Linked DNA regions of Homo sapiens: region 1 is linked to region 2. The links come from fine-mapping of genetic effects on gene expression. A gene starts in region 2. The other region holds a variant in brackets. All regions are shown on one strand. Distances are between the middles of the regions. Region 1 holds the start of TRPM1 (transient receptor potential cation channel subfamily M member 1). Region 2 holds the start of TRPM1-AS1 (TRPM1 antisense RNA 1).

What was found. PIP is the estimated chance that this variant, and not a neighbour inherited with it, causes the effect.
Region 1: its variant is the best candidate, but not a certain one, in a credible set for the expression of TRPM1-AS1 in substantia nigra (GTEx, PIP 0.65).

Annotation. Positions count from the first base shown.
Region 1 is chr15:31,101,632-31,104,131 of GRCh38, reverse strand. It overlaps TRPM1 (transient receptor potential cation channel subfamily M member 1), which reads left to right and starts at 2,407. Exons shown (of 28, transcript NM_001252024.2): 1 at 2,407-2,475. The variant C/A (reference allele first, on the strand shown) is at 1,467.
Region 2 is chr15:31,025,429-31,027,928 of GRCh38, reverse strand. It overlaps TRPM1-AS1 (TRPM1 antisense RNA 1), which reads right to left and starts at 1,057. Exons shown (of 5, transcript XR_932056.2): 1 at 818-1,057. TRPM1 (transient receptor potential cation channel subfamily M member 1) reads left to right here. Exons shown (of 28, transcript NM_001252024.2): 26 at 812-1,014; 27 at 1,658-1,790. RefSeq lists an enhancer at 849-2,048.

The DNA of each region.
Region 1 (2,500 bases), 76 kb before region 2:
TCAGTATCCACCCTTCACGGTGGTGTTCTTGTGTCCTCAGACGGCTCCACAGACACATAATGATTCTCAGACCTTACAGCGTCTCTCCACAGTCCTCACACACTGTGTCCATGCACCAGGTCATCCAAGTGACTTCATGGGGGAGGATGCCTCTGGAGAGTGGACAGTCTGGTGAGAACCCCTTTTCCCCACAGCTGCAGCTCAACACCGCCCAACAGAAATACAAGGTGAGCCATAGCTGTGAGCCACAGAGCAGAGGCAATTTTAAATTTTCTTTTTTTTTTCTTTTTCTTTCTTTCTCTCTTTTTTTTTTTTTTTGGATACAGAGTCTCACTCTGTCACCCAGGCTGGAGTGCAGTGGTGTGATCTCAGCTCACTGCAACTTCCGCCTCCAGGGTTCAAGTGATTCTCCTGCCTCAGCCTCCCGAGTAGCTGGGATTACAGGCACCCACCACCATGGCCGGTTATTTTTTATATTTTTAGTAGAGATGAGGTTTCACCATGTTGGCCAGGCTGGTCTCGAACTCCTGACCTCAGGTGATCCACCTGCCTCAGCCTCCCAAAGTGCTGGAATTGCAGGCGTGAGCTGGGCCAATTTAAAATTTTCTAGTAGTCAGTTTTGAAAAGTAAATAGAAGCAGGTGAAAAAAATTAATAACATTCTATTCAACCCAACATGTTCTAAATATTTCAATGTGCAATCGATTATTATCACAAGTCTTGGCAATCCCGTGTATATTTTACATTCGGAGCATATCTCAATTCTGACTGGCTCTGTTTCCAGCACTCCATAGCCACGCGTGGCCTGTGGCCACTGTGTGAGACATCTCAGCTCCCAGTTGCAGGCCACACTGCATGGACCCTGGGGAGGAGGGGTGTTCTCTTGGGGAAGGATGGGGCTCCCATTGTTTCCATCTTATCTGAACCTGAAAAAGAGCTTATTTGTCTAGTGAAGGGCCCACTGCCTGGAGAGCCACTGACTGGCAGCCGGTCGGGCTGGCCATTGGTGCTGACCACAGAGCCTCCACACCTCCCAGCCATGGCAGTGCCGGCCATCAGCTCACTTCCCCATGTGGTCTTTCCCCACTGCTCCCAGACTGATTTCAGATGCCCCGGATTGCCCTGACTGTGCCTTCAGAATTCCGGCCACGTAGCACCCTCCCTCAGCCCCCGGAAGGGTTCCCGCTGAAGCCGTGACTCTCTCAGGCCTCAGGAGCCAACACCAGTTCAAGAAAGAAGACTCGGGAGCCAGGCCAGGGAGGCTGCTGCGGTCATTGTGCGCCCAGGGGCTGTGCGCGCTCCAGCAAAGCACGTGGGAGCCACTCACCAGACCCTTTGCACGCCCACTCTGCGGTGACAGACCCTGAGAGAAACGAATGAAAGCAAAGACAGACCCAGAAAATGGCCTGGCACATGTGCTTCCGTCAGAAGTTCAGAGATTCCCTGAGCCCCAGGCTGTCTGCCAGG[C/A]ATTGGGTGGGGGAGTGAGCCCAGCCTCCAGCTTCAGGACTCTACATATGGGCAGAACTTGACAACCTGGGCACTCCCACTCCACCCCACCTGCTCTCTGGGCAAGCCACCCTCTCACATGACTCAGAGTCCTCATCTGTAAAATGGGAACACCCCTAATTGCCCTTACGTCCAATCTGTCTGCTCCTCTGTGAGAAGCGGGAGGCGGACAATGCCCAAGAGCCTCAGATGCTGGGGAAGACCCAGCCCCTCTGCAGAGAGGGATAGTTCAGGGTTTGGGTTTTTTCTTTCCTCCTGGGCTGAGAAAGCTCATGGAAAGCTGGAATAACCACGCATACTGTTACAGCAAATCCAACAGAGCTCCCACCGTGGTGGTTTTCAGGTGACTGTGGATGCCAAGCAGGCAAGCTCCTGGTGAAGGGGGGAGAGCAGGGATTAGAAGCACTCAGAAGGGGCTGAGAGTCATGTGGGGCTCACACTGCATTTGCAGCTGGGTTCACCCTGACCTCAGGCCCAACTTAGATGAGGAAGGATTAGCAGTAATTAGTGCCATGTGCCGCCTTCTCCCAGCTCCCCGGGGCACGAACACTGCCCAGCTGATGAGGGGATTCTGAAAGAACCATTATGTCCAATTGTCTCAATTATGCAAACCCTGCTGACATTTCCAGCCAGGGAAGGGCGGCTGGGTGGGAGGGGGCCATGGCGGGGCCACTTCAAAGGAAAAGCTCTAGCTCCCCTACCTCTCTCACATCCTAAGGCTGCCTTTGTGGGATTCCACACAGAACAGCCTGGAAGCTTGGGGCCCTGGCTTCCTTTTCTGGCCTGGGAGTCAGGTCATGGGGCCATCGCTTCACAGCAATCATGAGGGCCCAGGCCCAAGTGCTCACATGCTCCTCATGGGGACTGCTCCTCTTAAAGGGTGGGCCCTCCTCACCCAGCTCCCTGCCCTGGCCAAGGAGGAGGCTGAAAGAGCCTGAGCTGTGCCCTCTCCATTCCACTGCTGTGGCAGGTAAGCTCAGATGCGGGTAAGCACA
Region 2 (2,500 bases):
GATCATTTATAGAATACAAGATAAAATGGCCTAAGAAAAAAATGGCTTAAAGGGTTAAATCGAGTTTCTTATAAAACCTGCCTATTTGGCATGTTGTGTTGAGTATGTTGACCATGCTCAATAAATATTGAAAAAAATGATTTTAGCTTCTAAGATGAAAAATATAGAGGGAAAAATCCTTCACAGAAATATGCAATCTTAGAATTGAACAGGGCATTGGAGAAAACCTGGTCCAAACTTCTGGCTTGAGAGATGAGAAAACTAAGGTCAGGGAAGGTAACTGGTTTTCCTAAGGTCCCAGTATTGGTAGACAATGAAATCATGCACTTACTGCTTCCTGTTGGAAGCTAAAATAAGACAAAGATTGTACCTACCCCATGTCCAAAATAACGAACCTTCAATCAAATAAGTTCAATAACTAATTAATTCAGTTGAAAAAAAAGTAGTCATCTACTTGTTAGACAGAATTGAAAGTTTAAACATGTGAAAGCATTTAGTTAAATGGCTTATACCGCTACACATAGGAAATTAAATTTCCTGAGTATATGAGTAGATTGTGGTGTGGTTTTTCAAGAAAGCAGTACATAGCAATTTATTACACTTAGCTATTTATGAATACAATGTCCTTAAGCACAGATAATCCACATTGATGGATAAACCAAAAGATTGGATAATCAAGGAATCAGTACTAAAGGGCACTAAAAGGCCATCTCATTGAGTATTTTCACTTAAATGTGAGTAACTTTGACTGCTCTGGGAAATCACTATAAAAAGTAATATAACTAACTGTAAAAATGTCTTCTTTTTAAAGCAATACCTTCTTTGAAGTAAAATCAATATCCAACCAGGTGTGGAAGTTCCAGCGATATCAGCTGATTATGACATTTCATGACAGGCCAGTCCTGCCCCCACCGATGATCATTTTAAGCCACATCTACATCATCATTATGCGTCTCAGCGGCCGCTGCAGGAAAAAGAGAGAAGGGGACCAAGAGGAACGGGATCGTGGATTGAGTATGTGCAGGGCTCTTCATTTCTAAGTTGGGCTGATTTCAAAATAGTGTTCAAATTGGACATCCTCACAGAAATCTCACTCAACTACTTGCTCGTGTGAAAAGCACCACACTCAGTCCAACTGCTGTTCTTTTCAAAAGGCTTCTCATTTTGTACCCATTTTATTCTAGTTTCGTTAATTTGTTAGTAATTAATATTAGGAAAGCCAGCTCATAGAGACCAGAAGTTGAGCTAATTCTCTAAAATAACTCTACTCTGTAAATTTCTATATAAATTCAATGCTCCTTTCAAAACGTCTTAATTTGTTGCATCTAAAGAAAATGAGAAAATAATGCTATACGTTTGACTCTATTCATAAAAATAAGTGCAAAAAGTTTTCCAGGAAATATTACTTGGCTTTACTTTCCCAGTAAATGTAATTTTGTTTTTTATGTTTAAAAGCGGGCCGTTTGGCTCCAACTGATAGAGGGTTGGGGCGTATGACAACCCCTTTTTAGATAAAAATCAATTGGAGTAGTGGCGAACTGCCTTAGGAGTGGCGGAGAAGAGAGCTTAATTAAAGTGGGGCTGTGAAATTCTCATTGACGCCACGAAACTGATTCTTCTTGTTTTTCACGTGGCCGACACTTCTCCCTTCACACAGAGCTCTTCCTTAGCGACGAGGAGCTAAAGAGGCTGCATGAGTTCGAGGAGCAGTGCGTGCAGGAGCACTTCCGGGAGAAGGAGGATGAGCAGCAGTCGTCCAGCGACGAGCGCATCCGGGTCACTTCTGAAAGGTACGTGTAGCGTCCCCACCGCGGGCCCGTGAGCCAAGGGTTTGCTGACTCGGGCGCCCCACTCTATGGGGGATGCCAGAGTTCATTTAAACATGCACTCCGAGTTCTCCTGTTTTATTTAAACTTTAGGTTTTAACGTGGTTCCCACGAAATAGTGAGAAAGTTACTAGGTAATAACTGTGCATTGGATATAGAAGGGAATGACATTTATTTATCCTGGGCCGAAAGAAAACCTAACAGTTGACTACCTTCACCCCCTACCCCAAAGTGGGGGTGTTTCCGCAAGGTTAATGGAAGCTACAGAAAGCCATCCTTCTCCCAGCTCTTGTTCCTAACTTCCCTTTGCGAGCATGGTCCTCCCCAGGGGACTGCCCTCCTCATCCGGCCTAGCTGCTTGCTGCACCTTGGCAACACCTTTCCCAGCCTCACAGGGCAGAGGAAAAGGCTCCCTCCTGGGGCTCCCCTGAGAGTGGGAACTGGGAGGGGTGGGGTGCAGGGTGGGGGGTGAGGTGTCTGGCCCCATGAGGGTGGGATCCGCTAAACTAGGGCAGGGTGTGTCTTTCAGACACCTTCACATCCGCAGTACCCAGCAAGGTCAGCCTAATCTCCGCGGTGATGCTTAATAAATGCAGAGTGAATGAATGCAGGATGTGTGAACCAGTGAATGAGTAAATGAAGTCAGGTCGCGAGGTACAGAAATGGTGACATTT